7 linked regions of the Homo sapiens genome follow. The protein of the gene in region 3 interacts with the protein of the main gene of each other region in a pairwise test. Each region holds a gene or a part of one and is shown on either strand. Other genes may lie near its edges. The genes, in order: SAE1, SOX3, CRX, SMAP2, C1orf50, SOX10 and CTNNA3.

Region 1 (3,500 bases), 620 kb from region 3:
TCTCTCACCCCATTCATCTTTGTTTCATGCCCTCCCCATTTCCACCTCATCCCATTTTCTCTGGCCCATCCAGGTGCCATTCAGCAAATGACCTTGGAGTGCCTGCTCTGTGCTTAGCTCACAGTTGGCCATAGTGCCTCGAAGGTGTGATCTGCTCTCCCCTAACTGTATTAGTTATCCAGTGCCTGTTGTATTGGTCAGGGATTCTGCTTCTCATAGCTCTATAAGTGAGTACTATCATGATCCCCACTTAAGAGGAAGACACTTGGGCCCATGAAAGGGACTCCAGAACCTGTGCTCTTAACCTCTGTACAGTTTATCTCTATTCATCACCATGACATCAAAGCCCTCCCTTTTTTTTTTTTTTTTTTTTTTTTTTTTGAGATGGAGTCTCGCTCTGTCCCCCAGGCTGGAGTGCAGTAGCACGATCTCAGATCACTGCAAGCTCCACCTCCCGGGTTCACGCCATTCTCCTACCTTAGCCTTCCAAGTAGCTGGGACTACAGGCGCCTGCCACCACGCCCAGCTAATTTTTTTGTATTTTTAGTAGAGACAGGGTTTCACTGTGTTAGCCAGGATGGTCTGGATCTCCTGACATCGTGATCTGCCCACCTCAGCCTCTCAAAGTGCTGGGATTACAGGCATGAGCCACTGTACCCAGCCGCACCCCCCCCCTTTTTTTTTTTTTTTGAGACAGAATCTCACTTTGTCTCTCAGACTGGAGTGCAGTGGCATGATCTTGACTCACTGCAACCTCCGCCTCCTGGGTTCAAGCGATTCTCCTGCCTCAGCCTCCCGAGCAGCTGAGAGTACAGGTTCCCACCACCACACCAGGCTAATTTTTGTATTTTTAGTAGTTCACCATATTGGCCAGGCTGGTCTCGAACTCCTGACCTTGTGATCCTCCCACCTCAGCCTCCCAAAGTGCTGGGATTATAGGTGTGAGCCACCGCACCCGGCCAAGCCCCCGTCTTTTTAACCACACACTGTAGGTATTTGTAGAGAAATCAGTTTCTGTGTCCCCATGAACACACCAGGAGCCCCTCAAGGCTCTGTACAGGATGACCCGTGACCCTGTTAGGTAGGTGTTAGTGTGTCTCTCAGAAGGGAAGCATCTTATACAGGGTCACATAACCAGTAACTAGCACAGCCTTTTGAGGGTCTTCTGGAACATTTGGGTTGCTAAAACTATACCATACCCCCAAATATATTGTACATTCTTTGCAGACTTTGCTATTTGCCCGAAGATGTTAAATTTGCCTTTTGCAGGTTCTTGGCTGCCTTCGTGGACTCCGGTGAGGCTTTTTCCTTCTTTCTTATGGAGCAGAGTCGTGCCTGGTTAAATGATTGGCCATGTCCATGTACATGTCAAGTTTGAGCTTGGGAGGACAGTTTGGAGGCCAGCCCTTAACACTTTGTCTTGGGGTCTGTACATTCTGGAGGCGTTTGGCTCAATTTGTTAGTCACACCGTTTTCCTAAGGCTACTTTTTTTTTTTTTTTTTGTCTATTTTTTCTGATCCTTCTCTCTGGTCTAAATTCTTCCTTTGATCAAATCTAACTTTCTTCTATGTAATGGGCACCGAGGAGATATTTGGAGGGGGAAGAAAAGTGTGCAATGGCCATACCTCTTTCCTTGCTCACATTTTATACATAGCCCAGAGTGATGTGAAAATTACAGTTTATATGCCCAATCTGAGAAGAGGGTAATGGCCACCCAGAGGACTGTTCGAGCAGGATTCTGAGGCTCCCTGTAGACAAACTGCAGGAAAGAGTGCAGCAATGGGAATGTTCTAAGTGGGGAATGGGAATGTACATATTTTTGTAGCCTAAAATGACGACACCACCAATAATAGACAAGACTTACTGAAAGCCCACTGTCTGCCACACAAAGACAGTGTTTTTTACGTGGATACTCATTTCATCTCCCACCGGCCCTATGAGGTAGGAACTCCTGTGATCCCTGGTTTATAAAAGAGAGACTAAGGTGCAGGAAAGAAGATGCTTGCCCAGGCTAGTGAGTGTGGTGCCAGGATGTGGGCCCAGGCAGTCTGGTTTCTGAGCCTGTCCTCTTCACCACGGGGCAGTCATGCATCAGGTGTTGCCTTCAATGGCACCATCATGTAGAGACTGCATGGACCCCAGGGCCGCTGCCCTTGCATTGTCAGCCTTACTTCTGCACATCCCATTGAGGGGCTCCCCCTAAATTTTTCATGTGGGATGGAGACTGGAGGTTGGGGCAGGTAGCCTTGACCCCATTGTTGGTGGTAGTTTCTCACATCCCCATCCTCACACAGCCCCCTCCTTCCTGCCTGCTGGAGACAGCTGGTGCCCAGCATCTTGTTTCTGTTTATCCCAGATAGCCAGAGTACTCTGCATTCTTCGTTGCTGGGTGTGTTTGGAATCTCCTCCTACCCCATCTTGCTTGGGAAGCACTTTACCTTTTGCCCCATGTCACCCCATGCCCTGCTCTCATCCCCAGTACTCCTTCATACTTATTACTGGTCAGCCTTCAGCCAGCTGGCAGGCGGGGCCTGCAGTCCAAGGGCCTCAGACTCACCTTTCTCTCCTGAGGCACTGTCTGAGCGCCTATGGAAAGCTTACACTAGGAGATGGGTCAAGCGCAAGTCTGCTCCTTTGGAATCATCTTTTGCGTCTTTCCTTTCTTACGTCCTTCTAGATACCCTATTTTATATCCATGTCTACTTCCTTGGGTTTAAAGCAGTTTTCCTTTCTCTCCATCCCCACCGTCCACGGCAGGTCTCCCTGTCTATGGTAAGAGAGGTGATAGTGAAAGCAGCAGCCATCCCAGGTTCATGGTAAAACACATACCATCTCCTGTATCTTGGGTTTGAGGGTCTAAGAGTTCCACCTGTGTACTGTTGGACCCTTCCACCTGGCTAGGTTGGTGGCATCCCCAGTATTGGTAAAGGACTCCTGGCCCTATTATTATTAATAGCAGCTCCTACTTACTAAGAATTTACTACGTGCTCGGCACTTTACAAGCCTAGTCACATTTCATTCTCACCAAAACTCTAGCAGGCAGGTGCTTTTTATTTGCCTATTTGCCCAGAGAAGCAAACTTCTTTCTGATCCAAGCTCCATGTGGACAGAGACCTCAGAATCCTTAATGTCTAGCTGAATACCTGGCATAGAGTAGATGCTTAATAAATGTTCCCTTGACTGGGTGCAGTAGCTCATGCCTGTAATTCCAGCACTTTGGGAGGATTGCTTGAACCTAGAAGTTCAAGACTAGCTTGGGCAACATGAGGAGACCTCATCTCTACAAAAGTCCCAGCTACTCAAGAGGGTATGGGAGGATATCTGGAGCTGGGGAGACGGAGGTTGCAGTAAGCCGAGAATGTGCCTCCCACCTGGGTAGCAGAACAAGATCCTATCTCAAAAAATTAAAAACATTTACAAATAAATAAAATTTCCCTGGAAAAATGGCTGACTAACACTATTTGTATATGGTAGATGTGATTGTCCCTGTTTTATGGAT
Region 2 (3,990 bases), on a different chromosome or scaffold from region 3:
CCGTATGGACACCTTATTTTAGTTTCTGCCAAATCTGCCGGGATGGCTTCTCATTCCCACTCGCTACCTCGGGCTGCTCCGAGAGTTTCAAACGCTGTGCCACTCGCTTCAGCTGGCAGTGGCGATTATCGGGGTTTCCTCTCCCCGCAGCCAGAGTTCCCGCGCCGCTAGTCTTTGGCAGATAACCCAACAAGCAAGTGAATGTCCCGCTCCGAATCTCAGGAAGTCTCTAAAACAATAAAAGAGACGGACGGAATCCGTTAGCAGAGCCTGCTCCCGGGGGAGGCGGCGAGGCTGCGCGCCCAGAGTAGCGCTCAGCGGTCCCGGCAGGTGCGGGGGCAGTGGAGGGGGCCCGGCGGTTCGCCCGGAGGACGGCCTCGGCTCCGCTCCGGCCAACGTTCCCCCCTCCAAGAAACTTTTCTTTCACTCTGAGAGGCTCCGTGTTGCCATGAAAACGGATTTTCCAAGGGGCCCGACCCTCCCCCTCAGGGGCATCGGACTGGAAAAACCGAAATGGCCACAGAGCAGAGACAAAAAGGGGCCGCTAAGCGGGGGCCAGGATCGAGAGAGCGGAGGCCAGTTCACCCCCTACGTCCCACACATACTTTCCACACCACCTTGTGCGAGCGCCTCCGACAGGCTCAGGAGACGGGCGACTGACTGCTTGCCCGCCCTCCTGCAAACCCCCAAGAGCCTCACAGCCGAATGCACCCCGCAGTCCTGAAGCCTGTCTCCCATGCCCGGGCCCCTGACCCACGCTGCGTCCTGGACGCACTGGCCCTCCTAGAGAAAGATCTGGACAACCAGCGGCCAATTCCAGGGAGAGCTTCTTGGAGACGCAGCCAGGAGCACTTCCAATGAGCCTGGAGTCCCTAAGCCGGCCTGGGTAGCTGGTGGTGCCCTGCGTTCCTAGCGCTGGCAGCAGAAGCGGCCAGAAAACCTCCGTGCAGACAACGGGAAGCTTTGCGGGCTGGCCGGGGGATGGGGCGCCGGTCTGCCTTGACAGGGTTGCAAAGTTGTTTTCTAAATTCCGAAGGCGCCCCTCTGCCCCCTCCCCCCAATCTGCTTGCGTGCCCCCTCCCCCCTCCCCCCGTCACCTCCTCAGGTTTCGTTCTTTCAAACTTTTTGAAACCCTAATTGGTGGCCTCTGAGTGGGCCTCGTGGACTCCCGCCTCCTAAGTAACTCTTACCACGTCACTAGGCCAAAGAGGGGCGTGGGGTGAACGAAAGGGCTCCCCGAACTTTTTTTTTTCCAGCCAGGCCGAACGGGGGCTCGGTAATGATTGGCCAGGGCGCATCACTGCGAACCTGTCAATCACGGGTCCTCCGGGTTGCGAGGGGCGGACCAAGCCCCAACCCCGGGGAATCCGAGCAGGTATATAAGGGGCCCAGCTAGAGCCCAGGCAGACTGTGAATGCGACCTGTTCGAGAGAACTCATCAGGTGCGAGAAGCCCGCGGGTTCCTGCTGATTTGGCGCGGAGCATTTTGATAAGCCTACCCTTCCCGCCGGACTCGCTGGCCCACAGGCCCCCAAGCTCCGCTCCGACGGAGTCCCAGGGCCTTTTCACCGTGGCCGCTCCAGCCCCGGGAGCGCCTTCTCCTCCCGCCACGCTGGCGCACCTTCTTCCCGCCCCGGCAATGTACAGCCTTCTGGAGACTGAACTCAAGAACCCCGTAGGGACACCCACACAAGCGGCGGGCACCGGCGGCCCCGCAGCCCCGGGAGGCGCAGGCAAGAGTAGTGCGAACGCAGCCGGCGGCGCGAACTCGGGCGGCGGCAGCAGCGGTGGTGCGAGCGGAGGTGGCGGGGGTACAGACCAGGACCGTGTGAAACGGCCCATGAACGCCTTCATGGTATGGTCCCGCGGGCAGCGGCGCAAAATGGCCCTGGAGAACCCCAAGATGCACAATTCTGAGATCAGCAAGCGCTTGGGCGCCGACTGGAAACTGCTGACCGACGCCGAGAAGCGACCATTCATCGACGAGGCCAAGCGACTTCGCGCCGTGCACATGAAGGAGTATCCGGACTACAAGTACCGACCGCGCCGCAAGACCAAGACGCTGCTCAAGAAAGATAAGTACTCCCTGCCCAGCGGCCTCCTGCCTCCCGGTGCCGCGGCCGCCGCCGCCGCTGCCGCGGCCGCAGCCGCTGCCGCCAGCAGTCCGGTGGGCGTGGGCCAGCGCCTGGACACGTACACGCACGTGAACGGCTGGGCCAACGGCGCGTACTCGCTGGTGCAGGAGCAGCTGGGCTACGCGCAGCCCCCGAGCATGAGCAGCCCGCCGCCGCCGCCCGCGCTGCCGCCGATGCACCGCTACGACATGGCCGGCCTGCAGTACAGCCCAATGATGCCGCCCGGCGCTCAGAGCTACATGAACGTCGCTGCCGCGGCCGCCGCCGCCTCGGGCTACGGGGGCATGGCGCCCTCAGCCACAGCAGCCGCGGCCGCCGCCTACGGGCAGCAGCCCGCCACCGCCGCGGCCGCAGCTGCGGCCGCAGCCGCCATGAGCCTGGGCCCCATGGGCTCGGTAGTGAAGTCTGAGCCCAGCTCGCCGCCGCCCGCCATCGCATCGCACTCTCAGCGCGCGTGCCTCGGCGACCTGCGCGACATGATCAGCATGTACCTGCCACCCGGCGGGGACGCGGCCGACGCCGCCTCTCCGCTGCCCGGCGGTCGCCTGCACGGCGTGCACCAGCACTACCAGGGCGCCGGGACTGCAGTCAACGGAACGGTGCCGCTGACCCACATCTGAGCACCGGCCTGCGCTCGTCCACCCTTGTTCCCCACCCCCACCCCCACTCCCGCCCCGCACCCCCAAGTTGGGACGCCTTGTTTAGCTTTGCTTGCCTGGGACTGTTGCCTTGTACCGATGATGGGGAGGGCTGAAAGTTTTGCTGTAGCTGTCGGGTTTTGTACAAAAGCAAAAATAAGTCAGGAGCAGCGAAAATGGGACTTCTAGAGAGCTCTCTTGCCCCACGCCGCTGCTCCTTTCACCTTTGTAGGCTGGGAATCGCTGTGTTATTTGCAAAGAAAAAACAGCCCCCACTCCTCCTCCTGAGTTCCAGGGTTATTCTGTTACATTTGAAAATGTTGTCTTGTTAGTTTGCAGTTAGCCAAGGAGTGAATGGGAGAAACATAGTATCGGGTGAGGCCAGCTGGAGAACTGCAACGCCTACGCCCCCAGTCGTGTCGCGTCTGTTTTCCTCGTGGTTTTTTGGGGCGCTGACCGCTCCAAGCAGCGCGGCAGCTAAAGCCAATGTTAATTTATAGCCAGGTGTGCGTGTGTCTCCCGCCTCGCCGCCCCTGGCCGCGGGACAGCTTCTGTCCAATCATGTTGAGTTGGTGATTTCTGCCGTGATCTGTTTGATATTTCTTCGCGCTAATGTGTTCAGATTTCGTTTGGGTAGTGGGGAGGGGCTACTTTGTTTCAGGGTTTTCAAGCTTTTACTCTTAATTCCTAAATGAGATCAATAAATTTTATAACCAACATGATGGAGTCCTGATAATTTTGCGGCCCTGAAACTTTTTTGCAGGTTGGGGAGGAACCAACACTCGGTTTTACAACTGAGATCCCATCCTAGGGGCGGGGTGGGACCTGGGGGGAGGCAAGCATAATCTGAAATGGTTTCCTTTTAACTACTGGTGATCCACCATACACCAGCTTCCAATATTCTCAACTGAAACTCGGAACAGAGTTCCGAGTCTTCCAGGAGCGTCTCCCGAGAGCGGGCACACAGTAGTAGCTAATGCGCAGAGCCCGCGGCCGCGCACTTGTTGATCGCAGTGAGCGTCTGCTGAAAGTGTCTGCTGCCGCAGCCACGCGAGGCGGGGCTGGAAAGGCGCGGCCGCTGAAACCGACCAAAAACGGGGCACTTTTACCTTTGTGCACTGGGGCGGGAAGACATTTGAGCCTAGCTGAAATATTTACAAAACGAAAACCCTTCGGAAATCTCGATGATCCTATTAAAAATAAATGGTTACAGGGAT
Region 3 (4,155 bases):
AGGATAAGCGAGGACAGAGGGACAGAGATGAGGCTGGAGTTACAGGGACAGGTGGACAGGCAGAAAGACAGCAAAGGGAGGGACAGACAGACAGGAACAGAAGGACATGGAGGCTGAGGGAGAGGGGAGAAAGAGCAAGATAGACAGGGAGACACAGAGAAAAAGAATAAGAGAGACCAAGGGGATAATGCAGGTTTATCAACAGAGACAGGGACGGAGAGGAGCAGATGGAGAATGAAAGAGTGGTATTCAGGAAAGTAGGCAGAAATGCCACAGCCTAAGGCCCACAGGAAAAGAAACTGAGGTACAGAGAAGCCAGACAAAGACCAATGGTGTGTAGAGAGATGGTGAGTGCTGGGTTTGTTGGCTCACGCCTGCAATCCCAGCACTTTGGGAGGCCGAGGTGGGAGGATTGCTTGAGGCCAGGAGTTTGAAGCCAGCCTGGGCAACATAGAGCGACTCCATCTCTACGAAAATAAAAAAATTAGCTGGGCATCGTGGTATGTGCCTGTAAAGTCTCAGCTACTGGGGAGGCTGAGGAGGGAGGATCCCTTGAGCACAGGAGGTCAAGGCTGCAGTGAGCTGTGATCATGCCACTGCACTCCAGCCTGGGCGACAGAGTGAGACCCTGTCTCAACCAAAAAAAAAAAAAAGGAAAAAAAAAAGAAAAAAATCCCAAACCCCAAACTCCACCAAAAACAGAAAAACAAAACACCCTTTCTAATAAGTCTGCCTATTTTCAGTGCTGGAAGCAGCCCCTGCCACCTCCGCCCCCAAAAAGAGGAGAATATCATGTCTGACAACACAGAGACAGAGAGGCCACAGACAAGACTTGACCAAGTCAAAGAGAGAGAAACAGGGGAAACTGAGGCAGAAACCGAGACCAATGAGGCACTACAGAGATAAACTAGCTGTCGGACAGACTGTTGTGGAGAGAAAGGGGGACCCAGGAGAGGGATCCCGAAAGCTCCGTGCCTCTCTTTTTTCAGACGATCTCTCAGGACCATCTGACAGTGCTCTCCTTCCTCTTTGATGCCTCTCTCTTGGGATACTAGCTGAAGCTGGAGAGACACCAGTTAGACCTAAGGAAGGACTTCCCTGAGGAGTAGGGGCTTATGGTCACCGGCAGGAGCTGGGGCCTCCCTTCCCCATCAGCCCTAATTGCCAAGATGTCATGGGGGGAAGAGGAGGGGATTAAGCAGACGGGTGCCCCTCCCCCTCCCAGCCAATGTCACCTCCTGGTGCCCAGTCGAGTCCCCCACCTTGGCCGGGATTACCCTCCGAGTTCCAGGCCATGACAAATGACATCACTCCCGGCCCAGGCTTAAAATCTCCCCATGTGAGGGGATGTGTTTCCTTCAGCCTCTGCTGTCTGGCCGCTCTGTCTAGGTCCTGGGCCACGGGAGAGCCCCGTCCCTCCTTTCTGAAGGTGAGCGTCTGCAGGAGAGGCGGAGGGGACCGAGGAGGGGAGAAAAAAGAGAGGGGAGAAGTTGGGTTTATCTTATTCGTGGCTGTGTTTGCCGTGCTCTGCAGGTGATGTTTGCTGAATAGTCACACACAAAACAGAGGTGCCGTCCTGGCATTTGTGGAAACGGGGCTAGGCTGTGATTGCAGCAGGAGGGAGTAAGGTTAGACAGCAGGGACTGGCTGATGGCACTCGGGGCATTGGGAGGATTCAGGGTGGCTTGTGGGCAAGGGGGTCCCCTCAAGCCCTGACGGCATCCGGGGTTGGGGGCTTCTCACCGTGGTTCTAAGGCAACTCCTCAGCATACCGCTCTGTTGGATGTTCTTTAAAACTCTTAGCACTGCCTGAAATTTTCATTTGCGCGATGATCCACAAATGGCCTGTCTCCCTCCCTTGTTGAGCACTGATTTTTCCCCAGTGCCCAGCGTGTGGTTGGGATTTGCCTAAATATGTGTTGCATAGATGGATGGATGAATGACAGACAAGGGACGGAACAGACATATACGCAGAGAGCCCAGGTCTGTGGCTGCAACAGGAAGAACTCCGGGTGGACTTGGGCCTGCCCGAGAGAGCCAGGAATGTGATGACTGGGGATCACTGTGCTGGTGAATTGATCACTTAGGGCCTCAATGCACCCAGAGGCTCTGGCTTTCAGCCCAGGCTCTACTTCGGGACTGGGGAATCCTCACGCCCCCGCCCTCTTAGCTTCCAGCACAGTCACTCTCTCTGATCTTCTTTCTGCAAAGTTTTTTTTTGTTTGTTTTTGAGATGGAGTCTTGCTCTGTTGCCCAAGCTGGAGTGCAGTGCCACGATCTCCACTCACTGCAACCTCTACCTCCTAGGTCCAAGGAGTCCATCCACCTCAGCCTCTTGAGTAGCTGGAATTACAGGCGCGTGCCCCCATGCCCAGCTATTTTTTGTATTTTTAGTAGAGATGGGGGGTCTCTCCATGTTGTCCAGGCTGGTCTCGAACTCCTGACCTCAAGTGATCAGCCCGCCTGAGCCTCCCAAAGTGCTGGGATTATGGGTATGAGCCTCTGCGCCCAGCCGGTCTCCTGCAAAACTCTTGATTGACACCTTGTTTCCCGTCTGCCCCTGTCAGGAGGGCTGAGGCCTTGTCTGTCTTGCTCTCGGCTGTATTCCCAGTGCTTGGGTCAGTCCTAGACACACAGTGAGTGCTCAGTGAATATGCAGGGAATGAATGAATGAATGAAGGGCAGAAGGGTAGAAGCAGGTAGACAGACTGCCACAGAGAGGAGGTGTGATGCGGTTTTCCCAAAAGGAACGAGCGAGGGCTGTGATTGCCACAGAGTGAGGTCCGACTTCAGGGCTGCCCACTGTGTGTGAATTTCTGGATGCTTCAGGGATCACATTGTTGATCACGGAGTTGATTTGCTCAGGCTCTAACTGTGCCGTGGATCCCAGCTTCCCCCAGGTCTCATGGCCGGCAGTGGGTGCATCCACCCAGCTCCTTGTCCCCGCTGGACAGAGGAGCCAACAGAGGCTGCAGAGAGAGGCTGGAGTGGCTGACAAGGGAGGGCCCTGAATGTGGCTGAGCTGGGAGGGTCTTGCCAAGGGCTGGCATGAAGCCACATGAGTCTGGTTTTTTTTTTTTTTTTTTGAGACGGAGTCTCACTCTGTGGCCCAGGCTGGAGTGCAGTGGCATGACCTCAGCTCAGTGCAACCTCCACCTCCCAGGTTCAAGCGATTCTCCTGCCTCAGCCTCTCAAGTATCTGGGATTACAGGCGTGCACCACCATGCCTGGCTTATTTTTGTATTTTTAGTAGAGATGGGGTTTCACCTTGTTAGCCAGGCTGGTCTCAAACTCCTGACCTCAGGTGATCCACCTGCCTCGGCCTCCCAAAGTGCTGGGATTACAGGCGTGAGCCACCACACCCGGCCGAGTCTGCGTTTAAATCTTGTTCTTTTCTCACTGTGTGGCCTTGGACCCCTCATGTGGGCTCTCTGGGCCTTGGTTGCCTCCTCTGCAAAGTGGGGACAATGATAAGCTGTCACCATGATCCAGCCAGATGAGCCATATTGCAGGCCTGGCCTGCAGTGGGAGCAGGGCAGGAGACCAGCCTCATTCTGTTTCTAGGGTCCCTAGGTAGACTTGGGGGTGAAGAGCGGGGCTCGGGGGCCAAAGAGATTTAAATTTTACCCCTGGTTCTTCCACTCATCACCTGTGTGACCTCGGGAATTGACGAAACCTCTTTCAGCCTCAGTTTCCTCCTCTGAGAAAGGGACCTCTGAGCTCCGTGGGGCTGTGGGGAGCATCCTAAGAGGCCATATCGCCGGGTGATCAGGAGGGCACCGGCTCCGGGGCAGGTGCTGGCCCAGCTCTGGCTCTGCCGCTGACGTGCGAGACAGAACTGGAGACTACACTTCTCTCAGCCTCAGTTTCCTTCTCTGTAAAGTGGGGATGATACCAGAAGCCGCCTGGGAGGAAGTTTCCATGGAGTTACTGTTGCCTGAGATCTTGTTCCCAAGGTCCATGGTGCATGCAGTGTGTGAGAAGCTGGGGCCCCCTGGAGGTCCTTAAGGTCATCAGCCACCTGAACTGTGGGCACCTCCCTCCCTCCCAGGCTCAGTCTCCCCCGCTGTAGAATGGAGTTATCTGCATGTCTGCCCCACCAGGTGGCTGTGAGCATTCAGACCTCACCTGTGGGAACAACTGCTCAGCTGGGAA
Region 4 (3,500 bases), on a different chromosome or scaffold from region 3:
CCATGCCTTCCTTCTATTCTAGACAAAAAGCAAAGGTGGCCCATAAGCTCATGGACCTAGAAATCTAGACTTCTGGAACCATCTAGCATGGACGGGGCTTCTCAAAAGAGGCTTCACCCCACATTCCCAGAGTGCTCTGGGGAAGCCTGTAGCCCAGCTATCAGGCACAGGGCAGCAGACGCCCAGGCCTGAAGGGTATTTCAGCACCACAGTGGGGGGCTGGCTGGCTCCCTTCTGGCTATTTGAAGGGCAAGGTATGGAGGAGGGTTCATTTTCAGAGAGCAAGGAAAGGTACAGAAATTAGAAGCCTAAGTAGCCAATAACCTCAATCAGCAGAAGCGGATGGAAACAAAGTGCAACCATCAGTGCTGTGAAAGGCAGACAACAGGCTTTCTTTCTGAAAGGGCAGAATCACTAGTTCAGGATTTCAAAGGTTTGGAGAAAAATGACCACAGGCCATCTCAGAAACAGGTTGCATCTGAAAAATGAAAGGAATGGGGGCAGGGAGTGGAGTACAGGGAATTGACATGAGGCTCAAAGGTGCTGTTTAGCAAAACTGCTAACATTTATGGAGGGCTCAGTATGTGCCAGGCATGGGGCTAAGAGCTTTAGAGGCATTATCTCATTTAATCCTTCCAACAACACCTTTGAAGTAGAGACTCATTCTCACTGCACGGATTATGAAAGCAACATTCAGAGGTTAAGTAAACTACCCATGGTCACACAGACAGTAAGTAACACAGAGCGACACTGGCTCCAAAGGCCATGCTCTTAACCACTACACCACACTGTCGCTCTGAAAAGTGTCACAGTAAACACTTCCTTAGAGCAACTGCTCAGATGTAAAACAGATCAGGAAGAATGTGAGAGAACAGTCTTGGCAATGAAGACAAAACTGGAGAACCCCATCTCTACCTATCTTCCAGGGTCACTGAGAATTTATCAAAATTTGTAAGAACATGGAAGCTGAAAAGTCCAACTCTTACCAAGGCCCAACAAATCCATGACAGGCGCTGTGGATTTCGGGGAGCTTTTCCGAGGTAGCTGTGGGTCTTCTTTTTTCTGTGGCTAAGGTGAAAATATGTTATAGCAAGAAATAAGCAGGTGGTTTTGAACTCTTTTCCCATCTCCACTGTAAAGCCACGGTGTTCTTGTGGGTAGGGCTGCTGTTATTCAAAGAGAGTTACCAAAGAAACAAAACTCAGGAAGTATTAGGTGAAAGAATCAAGTCAGGAGGCAGAAGTGCATAAACCAAACCTAAAATGAAAAACAAAGATATCGCCTGTGATTGTCTGGTGTCCTAAAGAGACAGATCTTTCTGAAACCAAGACAACCACAGAACAGGGGATCCAACAGAAGCAGCAGTTTTTGGTCCCAGGAAAAGCCAAGAATAAAGGTAGGTATCTGATGGTACAAGAGCCAAGAGCCAACAAATCTCCCAGTGGTTAGAAAACCTTTTACTTTAACACCAAAAGGGAGGTTGGTTTAAAGATTACCTAATTCACTCTGCCAGTATCACTAGTGATTGTGTCCACAGACAATGTGATTCAGAACGATGATAAAAGACTCTTCCTTAAGCAATAGTAAGTAAAGTCCTCTCTCCCAAGATTCCAAGTTTTTATGTTAGAGATTCTACTACTACAGCCACAATATGTCCTGTGGAAAAAGAAGGGTGTCTGTTTCAACATGACAAAGCAAGAACATAAGAAGGGATCACTTAAAATGGACTAATATGGCCTCACTTCTGGACTGTTCTTCATTGAAATCAGAAAATGGGATACAGAAGGTCTAACAAGAGAAGGACTAATGTGGAAATAGCATCTGCTCAGATGGTGTCCCTCAGCCTTGGCATTCTGGCTTGGAATGTGCCTCTTGCTTAGATGGAACAGATGCATTTCCTGAGTTCTCATCTGGCCCCAAAGCGAAGCCCTTACAGAGCAGATTTAGGCAGCAACTGGTAACGAGAGAGCAGAAATGATAGCAGGCAGTCCAATCCAGATGCAGAACCCTTTAGCCCCAGCTGTGATGGTGCAATGGTACTCACCACGAGACCTCCTACTTTCCCTTTCACAAATATACACATACCTGAGGCTGTCCATACAGTGCAAATACTTCCCAACTTACCATTTTCACCTTCTCAAAAACAACAGGTTCCAATTTTTTTTCTGGAACTGGTTCGCTCCCTCTTTTCCACTTGTCATCTTTTTCTTTCTATAATGATTTAACAAGACAAAGAACACAGGGCCCAAGGTGACTAATAGTTGGATAAATCATAATTCCAAGTGTCCGAAAAGGACACCTCCAATCCCTATTGATTCTGACGTAAGTGTCTGACAAGCTTGGGGGGCGGTGTCTTGGTGTGGAGCATGAGAGTTGACCTCTTCCACATTGGCCTCAATGCTGTACGAGGCGTCTTCCAAACACCTTAGGCGCCCGCCCTCCTAACCCACTCATGACTGTTGACATTTGCAGTCGAGGCTATGTACAGACGCTAAAACATTTTACCAGTATGCTGCCCACCTGTGCCCCAAATTTAATTTGCCCATGCTTTGAGAGGTCTCCCCTCATATCAGTATACTAGTGAATAAGTTCATCTTACTCAGCTTATGTCCTTTGTGATATCATAAATTCAATCATAGGTCCTCTCAATATTCATTTTTTTAACAGTCAGAAAATAAACCTTAATTTCAAGTTTACAGATTAGAAGAACAAAAATTAAGTTTTAAAATCAAATAAACATCTAAATGTAAAACAAAACCACAAAGTAACCTTAAGAATACAGAGTATAGCATACATATGAAAAACATGTTTGGTCTTGCCAGTGATAAAAAATGCAATTTAAAATGCACTTTATGCAGGGAGAAAGATCTTTCTATAATGGTGGGAGGGATGAAGTGAAACCAGTACTCTTATACAATGCTGAGAAGAGAGAGTAAAATGGTACAAATTCTGGAAAGTATATTGGCAAAACTAGGAAGAGACAAATGTTGAAATCCTTTGACCTAGATGATACCATATCTTGTAATGTATCTTACGAAAATAGTCCAAAATATGAAAAAGGTTAAATGCACCAAGTTCACCCCAGAATTATTTATGCTAAAAAAAATTAAATAACATTTATGCCACAGAAGGGAAATGGTAAATAAATTATTACTTTCAGTGATTTAGCTACTCACTGAAAGATGATGCAACAATTAAAAATTATAAACACTATATAAGCAACACAGAAATATATGTTAAGTGGAATGAAGGCACGAGAAGTCTACATAACTGTATTATAATTATGCCTCCAAAAAGAAACTATTTAGAAAAAAAGGGGAACACACCAAGAAGATAATTATTAGCAAAGATAGTGAGAGTATGTATGGATATTTCACTTTAATTTTCATTTTCTCTAAAATAATTTTATAATCAATACATGCAGCTGTTTTTCTCATACAAAGTGTATGTCTTTAACACGACATTTCATTTAAGTTAAAAATGTTTTATCTGTCCATTAT
Region 5 (2,743 bases), on a different chromosome or scaffold from region 3:
CCATGCCCAGCTAATTTTTTTATTTTTAGTAGAGACAGGGTTTCACCATGTTGGCCAGGAGGGTCTCTATCTCTTGACCTCATGATCCACCTGCCTCAGCCTCCCACAGTGCTGGCGTTTGAGCCACCATACCTGGCCTGTTGGCAGAATTTCAATTCCACAAGGGTTGCTGGCTTCCGGGGTTCCACTAGCTGACTGTTGGCTGGAGGTTGCCCTCACTTCCTTGCCACACGAGCCTCTATAACATGGCAGCTTTCTTAAGCAAAGTAAACAAGGATTAGAGTCTGCTAGCCAGATGGAAGTTACAGTCTCATGTAGTCTGATCACAGAAGTGACATTTCATCACCTTTGCCGTAATCTTTTGGTTGGAAGCAAGTCACTAGGCTAGCCCATATTCAAGGGAGGGAGTTATACAAAGGCATGTATACCAGAAGGCAGACATCATTGAATCATTGAACAGATCCTAGAATCTATCTGCCACAGTGCTCAGTTGAGAAGAAGAAAGGAAAATTCTAGGTAAAAAAGGCAATATTACTAAGTGGTTAAGTGTGATGATGTCAAAGTCACAGATCTGCACTTGACTGTCAACTCTGACAAGACAGCCTCCCAGCTGGCATCCCTGCTTCCCCCTCTGTCCCCTCTCCAATCCATTCTGCATGCAGTCATCAGCTTGATCATTTGAAAATGCCAAATCTCCCTCACTCTTGACATTTCCTAACCTAAAGAGTGGGAGAGTAGTGATTGAAAAGAGAGAAACTGCCTTCTGTTCAGTAAGATGTACTCCCTGCACTGACCACCAAGGGGTGTCATTGCTCTTTCCTGGTTAAGCCAGTTACCACACTTGGGAAGGGCTAGTGGCAATGTGAGGTGATTTGGGGCACCTCAGAATGGGAAACTAGGACCCAGTGATTATATACAGTAATCACTTTTCATTTACCCATCCATCTGTTCACCTGATAATTTCATTAGTGTTAAGTGCCTTCTAGGTTCCAGGTTCTGGTGAATAATGGAGCTGAATAAGAAATCACAATTTCCAGGGAGCTCACAGTATAGTAGGGAAGGAAACAAGTTAACAATTACAAGATGCTCTAAGAAGGGGTGTGATAGAGGTACGCATGGAATACTATGGAGCTCCGGGGAGGGGTTCCTTACTGAGCTTGGAGAATTTGGGAAGACACTTGGAGGAGCTGATGCCTGCTTGGTGTTGAAAACCATACAAGTTAGAACTTTCTGGAGGCTCCAATTGCCCTTTCATAGGAAGTTTGTCTTTTGGGGGTTGGGGTAGGGTTCATTTTTGGATGGAGTTTATTTGTGAATGAAGAAAGTGACAACCATTTAAGCCATATCAACCAAAGCAGTCCTGGCAATGAGGAGGGGTGGAGTGAGATATGTCCTGGCTAGAAAATCCTTGTGTTTAAAAGCTAGGAGATAGTTGAAGACAGGGAGGAAAAAACATTCCAGACAAAAAATAACATGGAAGGGACATTGACCAGAATTGACACGACATTTGGGGAATCGCAGCCAGTTAAACAGGAGAATATGGACTGGGGAATATGAGAGAAGAACTAATGGAAGGATTTGGGGAGGCTGGTAATATTGGCAGCAGAGTTTGGGTAGAGGGAAGACAGGAGATTCCATCCCTAATCAAGGCAAGGGATGATGGGAGTCTGAATTAAGCAGTAGTAGAATGAGAGGGCCTGTATTTCACCAATTACAAGGTGTACTTCCCCCCCCCCCCCCCCCACATTTTGGTGTCTGTCAAACTTGGACACTTCTAAAAGTCAATGGCATGTCACAGTTTAAGTGGCATTTTTTCTTTCTTAGAGCTACATAAAAGAATCATAACAAGCTGGGCGCAGTGGCTCACGCCTGTAATCCCAGCACTTTGGGCGGCTGAGGCGGGCGGATCACGAGGTCAGGAGATTGAGACCATTCTGGCTAACATAGTGAAATCCTGTCTCTACTAAAAATACAAAAAATTAGCCGGGCGTGGTGGCGGGCGCCTGTAATCCCAGCTACTCGGGAGGCTGAGGCAGGAGAATGTCGTGAACCTGGGAGGCGAAGCTTGCAGTGAGCCGAGATTGCACCACTGCACTCCAACTTGGGCAACAGAGCAAGACTCCATCTCAAAAAAAAAAAAAAAAGAATCATAACATAGCATCTTACATTTGATGAAGCATGGCACATTGAAAGTACAATCGATTGCCATCTTGTTAATAAAATGTCAGAGGGATTAGAGGAAAGACTCTTAGATGATGCTTGAATTTCTGGCTTGAGTGTCTGCATTGAATAGTGGGGATCCCCTCAACAAAATTTTCAGGAGGAGGAGGATATCCCTGTTATTTTCCAGAATAATCAGTGATACTCTGTGATATTGATAATCTACCTTGTTGGCCCTTACCAAATTACTGGGTGTGAGTAACAGCTGACTGTAGCTCCCTTTCTCTACCCTAGTGCTCTGGAAGGAGGAAAGGAGAGCTGGCTTGTATCTTACTTTCTCAAGTTATCAGTCCACAAACATGAAGAGTATTAGTGTTACAGATACAAAGATGATAACTACTGTCTTATGAGCCTTTATTCTGCTAAGTGTATCCATTATCTCTTTTAATCTTCACACAACCCACCATCAATGAGGTATATAGTATTCTTATGTTACACAGCAGGAACATCTCAGAGATTCTGAAACTGGCCCGTGGTTATACAGATGGGAAGTGGTAGAGGTCAGATTCAGACACAGTCCTGT
Region 6 (3,977 bases), on a different chromosome or scaffold from region 3:
TTGGACTTTCCCAAGCATGAGGCCTTGCCTCCCCAGACCCTTTGCAGCCCACTCCAGACAGGACCCCTTGGGGTGGTCTTGGGGCTTTGCCCTGCTGTTGAGGAGCTCAGAACGTCACATGGTTGCCAATGCGACCCCAGCTCCATTACATAACCCACATACACCCCACCTCGGCCTCAACACCCCGGCGGGGCTGCCCTCAGTTAAGAGAACAGCACTGCGACCTTTGGAGGAGAGGCCAAGGAAAGAGAGAGAAAAAGGTGTCAACGGAGGATGGGCAGGAAAGAAAAGGGGAGGGAGGGAGAGGTGGGCAGAGGAGGGAAGAGGCAGGGCAAGTCCCCACCCCTTGTTGGGGTGGGGGAGTAGAGGACTTCGTGACAATCAGGACTAGGACTCCCCTACCCTCTCCCAAGACAGGGTGAGCCCAGTGTGGAAGGAGCTGGGTCCCAGTAGGTAGCAACCCAAAATGCCTCTAAGACCTACTGAGAGAGGGCCCCCAACCTGTCCCACCTTGGCCTCCTGGCAGCTTTAGTCTTGTGTTTCCACCTTGAACCAGACCAGAACGCGCGTGTGCTGGGTGTCTGCAGAGAAGGGACCAGGGGTCAAGCTGGGGCTCTGCACTTCTCAGAGGGATCCCTGAGAAGTCTCTCTTACTGTGCAGGATGGGGCAGAAAGGGCTGCCTGGGAAAAGGTAGGAGGCAGGGTGAGGAGCTGGGCATCAGTGCCTGGCACACACTAGGCACTCAACAGGATTTCGCAGACGAAGCAGCTAGGGCCAGCCACCCTCACGGGCCCCCAGGACCCTCACCGCCTTCACGTCTCTCCCTAGTCCCCTGCCAAGTGCCCATCCTGCCACCTGAGGCAGACGTTAGGAGTCCTGGTTGGGCCCAATTTTCTTCCATCCAACAGGTTCTGACCCTCCAGCCTACATCTCTTCCTTCCTCGGCCTAACCTCCCCTCCACCTCCCAGACTAAGCCCAAGATAAGCCTCAGCAAGATGGGCCTGGGCAGTAGGGCAGGGAGCTGGGTGGGGGGGCCTGGGCTCCGGGTGGAGGAGCCCTGAGTGTTGGGGATGAAGGAAAGCCTGGAGGCTCCACCTTCTGCCCTTCCCTCCCTCCTCTCCCCTCCCCCCTCTCCCCCTCCTTCCTTCCCCAGCCCTCCGCAGCGGCTCAGGCTCAGTCGCTCAGTCAGTCTCGGGCTGTCCGGCCAGGGTGGTTGGTGGTAAGGATTCAGGCTCCGTCCTAACGAGGCCGTGGCCTGAGGCTCAGGGCCCCCCGCCCCTCCCTCCCAGCCCACCAGCGTCACCTCCCAGCCCCGAGCTGGACCGCACACCTTGGGACACGGTTTTCCACTTCCTAAGGACGAGCCCCAGACTGGAGGAGAGGTCCGAGGAGGTGAGTGCGCAGCCTGCTCCTCCCTGGCCCGCCCAGGCCTGGGACCCTGCTGTGAGGTGGAGAGAGGCGACACCCCGCCCTTGCCCCCCACCTGGCTCTCCTCTAAACCCCGTTGGGGCAGGCTGAGGGAAGAAGGAAAGGTGAGAGAAAAGGTGGGAAATTCCAGGGGCCGGGATTAGAGCAAAATAAAGGCTCCGTTTTTTTCTTCCTTATCATCAACAAACCTCCACCCAAAAAAGGAGGCTAAAAAAAAAGCCACCCACACCAAGAGACGGTTGGGACCAGGTGGTGGGAAGACACAGAGGCGGGACGCACCCACCTAGAGTCTGGCATGTGCGTGGGCCCCAGGGGCCAGATGGGTTTAGCTGGAGCAGGAAGGGCCGCCACCTCGGGGCTGTGCCCACGTCCTGTCTCGGGCCGCCCTCGGGGCTGCGCGCGCGGCCGCTCCATCGCGCCCTCCTTCCATCCAGGTGGGCGTTGGACTCTTTGCGAGGACCCCGGCGGCTGGCCCGGGGGAGGCGGCCGAGGCGGCGGCGGCGGCGGCCGGGGGCGACATGGCGGAGGAGCAGGACCTATCGGAGGTGGAGCTGAGCCCCGTGGGCTCGGAGGAGCCCCGCTGCCTGTCCCCGGGGAGCGCGCCCTCGCTAGGGCCCGACGGCGGCGGCGGCGGATCGGGCCTGCGAGCCAGCCCGGGGCCAGGCGAGCTGGGCAAGGTCAAGAAGGAGCAGCAGGACGGCGAGGCGGACGATGACAAGTTCCCCGTGTGCATCCGCGAGGCCGTCAGCCAGGTGCTCAGCGGCTACGACTGGACGCTGGTGCCCATGCCCGTGCGCGTCAACGGCGCCAGCAAAAGCAAGCCGCACGTCAAGCGGCCCATGAACGCCTTCATGGTGTGGGCTCAGGCAGCGCGCAGGAAGCTCGCGGACCAGTACCCGCACCTGCACAACGCTGAGCTCAGCAAGACGCTGGGCAAGCTCTGGAGGTGAGCACCCGACCGCCCCCCGGGCTCGGGCCCTCTAGCTTCGGGTGGATTCAGGGTAGCCGAGGCGGCCCGGCCTCCTGCACCTCAGAGCGGGACTGTCTGGCAGTCCTCCTTGGATAGGGCTGGAAGACCAGGTGTGGGGGCCGCGCCCGCCCTTCCATCACAAGGACCCTGGAACTCGGAACTCCAGCGGCCTAGGCCGGGTCTCCCTACGGGGCGGCGGGCAGGAAGGCGCCCCCTCGTGGTTGGAATTTTGCGGGTGGCAGACCGTGGGGCCTGGGGCTTTGGAGGGAGGGAAGGAGGCCTTCACTAACTCCTGCCCACAGATACGCACACTATGCCACCAGCTGCTGTGGTCAGGAGGATACGAGGGAAACGCTTGGAAAGAACCAAAGGGTTGGCTGGAGATTCAGGGAAACTGAGGCAGTCAGATGGAGAACTCAGGGGAGGTTTAAAGAAAACGGAATTCAGATGAGAGTCTTTGGAAGAGTGAGGGATGAAGAACTGCGGGACAAATCTGCTGCTGCGGGACCTCATCCTATCCTAGGGCTCTTCCCTGGGACTTTCTGACGCCACCCTCCTTTGAGTTGGGGGCTTCTTCATCCTCCTAGGGAGAGGACACACAGTAAGGGGCTCCCCCTCCTGCCCTGCCCCAGAGTCACCAAGCTGATCTCTTTCCTCCCTCTCCCAGTTCGGCGCCATCTTCCCTGCCAGGGCCCCACCCCAACGTTGAGCAACCTCTTCCCCACTGCCCCAGAGCTGGAGCTGAGCACTCTGGCCAGAAGGAAACCTTGGCCTCCTTCCTGCCCAGGGGCCCTCAGAGTCCCAGGTTCCCTGGGACCAGCCCACACCTCTAGGAAAAACATCCCCCGCAGGGAGCAATTATCCCACCCTCGACTCAGGTCTGGGGTTCAGCCAGGCCTCCTGGGGATGTGTGGAACAAGACAGTCCCCCACTCCCACCCGGGAGTGCCAGAGCAGCTCTGAAAGAGACCAGGGACTCCAGGAGATGTGAGCCGGTAGCAGTCACCTGATTCTCGCTAGACTGACCAAGAGACAGGCCCAGAAAGGCAAAGGAATCACAAAGGTCACATAGAAGTTGGTAGCAGAGCCAGGGCCAGAACCCAGGACTCCCATACTCTCTGTCCAGAGGACTTCCCCTGACCCTGGTGACAGTGGTGGATCACCTACACTTTGAGGAGTGGTCAGGAGGTTGGGGGGAAGCAAGAAGATGAGAACAAGAGTGAGGAGCATCTGGGTTCCAGAAAATTAGGGCTTTGTCAGAGGAGCCCGGCTCTCTTCCGCTGCCCTCCCCCTTGCCAGCCACAGTTGGGTAGAGATTGGGTCTAGAGGCTTAGAGTGGTAGAAGGTGCAGGAGGATCTCCAAGAGACCAAAAGATTCACATCCCGCCCCCTGGCCTGTTCTTGCCATGTGTTTGCTGAAGACCTGGTGCCCCTTCCCCTGCCCCTTCTCAGCCCTCAGTGCCCTGCTCACCCAGGGCAGGCCCAGGGCTCAGCGACCAGCCCGCTGTGTGGACCCAGACAGCCCAGTTCTGCCCAAGAGCAGAGGTCACAGCTAGCTCCTCCACCCAAGGTCCATCC
Region 7 (3,173 bases), on a different chromosome or scaffold from region 3:
GAAATTCTTCCCAATATTAGAGCCAATCTGGGTTACCATACGTTCATATATTTAACAGCTATTTGTTAAACAACTGTGATGTTCCAGGCACTGTTCTAGGTTCTTAGGATACACCATATAACAAAACAAATAGTGATCCTTGCCCTCATGTGCCAGCTCTGTGTTAAATGCTAACTATTATCTTATTCAATCCTCCAAATAACCCTATAGGATATATATCATTCCACAGACAAGGAAGCTGAGGGTTAAATGGGATAAGAATCTTGCTCAAAGTCTCACTGGCTTTAAAATATTAATATATATTTTACATCATTCAAGACAGATATATAATTAGCTGAATATTCTCACCTCTATTAACTGAATGTAGAGTGTCAGGTACATGGGAAGTAAGTTATTTACGTGATCTGAAATAAGAGGACAACCTTTGCCAAATTACTTTTATTACCATGGAGAAGAAAGCTTCAATGAAATGCCTGTTTCAGCCCATCTTCAGTATTGGTTGGTTAATACCATTTGTTAACACCAATCCTTTCCTCTTTTACTGCTAACATGTGACTGTGTTTAAAATTATAGATTGCAGCAGAGTGTTGGCCAAGGATTATTGTAGTAGGATAAAGTTTCCCTGTATTTGAAATTTACCCAAACTGTAGCAAATACATCTTTCCTTCTTTATGGAGGTCACACGTGTGCATAGTATGTGCCTGAATACAGGTAAACTTTGTGTTTTAAAATTACATGGCCTTTTTTAGAGTCGACTGAAGGCTAGACTCTTCTTGCCCATGTTGCTGGATAGGCTTTCAAATCTCAGGCCTTGGAGAGTTAAATGACTTTCTGATATTTCTTACGGTGGAGCCACATAAGAAATACACACATTCCTAGTTTGAGCAATGGATGTGTATATTGGGGATCTTCACTTTTATGTATCTGGTAGTCATGATGGTGCCTATTCCCAACTGTAGGAAAGGAAAGCCCTCAAGGAGAAAATTCTCTTTCAAAAAGGCTCAGATTTCTAACAATTATGTCTAAATGTTTCTTCAATTTAGAACATGTACAAAAGCTACTTAATATTAGCAGAGTAGTTCTTGTGTTTTCATTTCAAATGAAATATTCCCAGTTCCAAAGTTTATTTCCTTGGCATTTTCAAGAAGGATGGTTATTTTTAGTTCTGGTTATTTGGTGTTGGAGGTCTGTGACACTTCCTTATACATTTAAAGCCCCCTTTGAATAGTTGTATCAATAGTTCAAAAGCCTGTAGATATCTTGCTTTTCTATTCTGACAGCCCAGCTTCTGCAGACTCAGGCCAACCTTAGGTATGTCACATCAGTTCCCCATCTGTGTAAATTACCTGAACCTCTCTGTGGTATTCACTGAGAGTTGAGCTTCTACTAAGGGATTTCCTTGACCTGGGCTTTTAACACCAGATTTGTAGTGGAGTGTTTATTAGTAAAGCAAAGGAGTAAGTCAGAGATGCTAGCCCCTGCTCTCAGTTAAACAGAACTATCCTCCTTCCTGAATATTTAAACATAAAATTAATTTTAAACTACTATAAAAATCATGTTCCATTGCTTGCCAAATCTTATACCATTATAATGCTGTATTTTTACATGTTAGTATACATTGTGTCCATAGGGATATAAATATGAGAATTTCAGCAACTGTCTTGCAGGGTTAAGATGTGCTATTTGTTGATTTTGCAAATTTTTCTCATGTGGTACAGTCCCTCCAAAGAAAATTTCCTTAGACCTAAATGGTAGCATAATAATTTCTCCTCCATATCCGTGACTAACAAGTTCCTGAAAACAGAAGTAGACATATTTTATGCCCAATTTAGTACCTAATAATTGAGGCTTAAAACAAAATTTTCTTGGGCAAGTTGGGTGATTAAATATGAATTAAAACTTCTAGAGAAAGATTTCCAGATGCCCCTGTTTTCCATTTTGATTATGGTTTTAGTTTCATAGCAACTTGGGGGAAAAAAATCATTTACTTTATGTCGTATTACAACAACAACTTTGACAGCTTAAATGTAGTGACCTCTCTGAAGGTAATATGCACATTATAATTTAGGATGAAAGCAGATTTAAACTAAGACTTTCTGAGATGAAATAAAAGTAACCAATTCATAATAGTCATGTTTATTGCAGCAATATCTTGGGAACTTAAGTTTAGTGGCGTTTGAGGTGTTTCTGACTATCTTGCTTGTTCATTTCACCCTGCTCTGCAGAGACAGAATATGATTGAATGAACTGCCCATTATATTAATGACCAGTTCAAAGCAGTTTTGTGCTTTGGCTATAGATAAAATTTGGCAAAAATACTGTAGGCCTTTCTGGTCCATATTTATCCTTAAAGTATTTTTGCCAATCAATAAAAATGAAATATTTATCCAGAAATAGAAAAAGCTCTTTCCTATGACATTGACATAGAAGCCCAAATACTCCTTGTTTGAGACCCTGCATGTCTTTTGTGTTTAACTGAATCAATGATTTTTTTTAGTTGTGCTCTTAATTGCATTATTTCACATATGTAACACTGGGTTTGTTTTGGTTATATAGTATTATTTTACTTTATTCTAATTTCAACTCATGTCACTCTGTAGCTCATTAAGAATTTGTTCAACTGAAAATTAAAATGTGTGTTAAAGCAATAAAAATGAAAAGATTGGCTATGCATTTTATGTTGATATTTGGTGGCGGATTTCTTGGGTGGGATGAAAAAAATGGAGATTAATAAATTGCTGAGTAGTCCAACCATGTGTTTCTAAGTGTCACCTTCACTCTCATCCTCTTTCAGTTTTATATTTATAATTCAGGAAGGCACTTTTCCAAACTACTGCATGCACACAAGTAATCTGAAGCATATCTGATAGAATTAAATTCATAGTCTAAATGAGCATTTTTGGTCTAATACAGGCACTAGTCTTGGGCATTAGACATGCCTTTAATAGTTCTGTGTAGCTCAAGAGTTGTTCTTTAGCTTAGGACTTTATGAAAATGATCAATAACTTTTCTGAGAATGTCCGAACACATACTCCCTAGTGGTCATGGAATACCATTGGTTCTACCAATGCTCTTGTATCTAAAAATTGGTGGGTTTTTAACATCCATCTTGGCCTCCTCATTTTTAGGCTGATAATAATCCTTTCTCAGTATGAATCCCATGGGGTTAGCCT

What was found.
Region 1: the proteins of CRX (region 3) and SAE1 interact in binary tests that used the Homo sapiens proteins (3 or more experiments, as listed by UniProt).
Region 2: the proteins of CRX (region 3) and SOX3 interact in binary tests that used the Homo sapiens proteins (3 or more experiments, as listed by UniProt).
Region 4: the proteins of CRX (region 3) and SMAP2 interact in binary tests that used the Homo sapiens proteins (3 or more experiments, as listed by UniProt).
Region 5: the proteins of CRX (region 3) and C1orf50 interact in binary tests that used the Homo sapiens proteins (3 or more experiments, as listed by UniProt).
Region 6: the proteins of CRX (region 3) and SOX10 interact in binary tests that used the Homo sapiens proteins (3 or more experiments, as listed by UniProt).
Region 7: the proteins of CRX (region 3) and CTNNA3 interact in binary tests that used the Homo sapiens proteins (3 or more experiments, as listed by UniProt).

Annotation. Positions count from the first base shown.
Region 1 is NC_000019.10:47,203,835-47,207,334, forward strand, and holds part of SAE1 (SUMO-activating enzyme subunit 1), read left to right. Parts: intron 1-3,500. UniProt on the Homo sapiens protein: The heterodimer acts as an E1 ligase for SUMO1, SUMO2, SUMO3, and probably SUMO4. It mediates ATP-dependent activation of SUMO proteins followed by formation of a thioester bond between a SUMO protein and a conserved active site cysteine residue on UBA2/SAE2.
Region 2 is NC_000023.11:140,502,485-140,506,474, reverse strand, and holds SOX3 (transcription factor SOX-3), read left to right. Parts: upstream 1-1,405; 5' UTR 1,406-1,414; coding exon 1,415-2,755; 3' UTR 2,756-3,490; downstream 3,491-3,990. UniProt on the Homo sapiens protein: Transcription factor required during the formation of the hypothalamo-pituitary axis. May function as a switch in neuronal development.
Region 3 is NC_000019.10:47,820,582-47,824,736, forward strand, and holds the start of CRX (cone-rod homeobox protein), read left to right. Parts: upstream 1-1,355; 5' UTR 1,356-1,429; intron 1,430-4,155. UniProt on the Homo sapiens protein: Transcription factor that binds and transactivates the sequence 5'-TAATC[CA]-3' which is found upstream of several photoreceptor-specific genes, including the opsin genes.
Region 4 is NC_000001.11:40,411,727-40,415,226, reverse strand, and holds part of SMAP2 (stromal membrane-associated protein 2), read right to left. Parts: intron 2,212-3,500; coding exon 2,125-2,211; intron 1,069-2,124; coding exon 987-1,068; intron 1-986.
Region 5 is NC_000001.11:42,777,249-42,779,991, forward strand, and holds the end of C1orf50 (uncharacterized protein C1orf50), read left to right. Parts: 3' UTR 1-2,243; downstream 2,244-2,743.
Region 6 is NC_000022.11:37,981,756-37,985,732, reverse strand, and holds the start of SOX10 (transcription factor SOX-10), read left to right. Parts: upstream 1-1,177; 5' UTR 1,178-1,394; intron 1,395-1,864; 5' UTR 1,865-1,948; coding exon 1,949-2,376; intron 2,377-3,977. UniProt on the Homo sapiens protein: Transcription factor that plays a central role in developing and mature glia.
Region 7 is NC_000010.11:65,912,023-65,915,195, reverse strand, and holds the end of CTNNA3 (catenin alpha-3), read left to right. Parts: 3' UTR 1-2,673; downstream 2,674-3,173. UniProt on the Homo sapiens protein: May be involved in formation of stretch-resistant cell-cell adhesion complexes.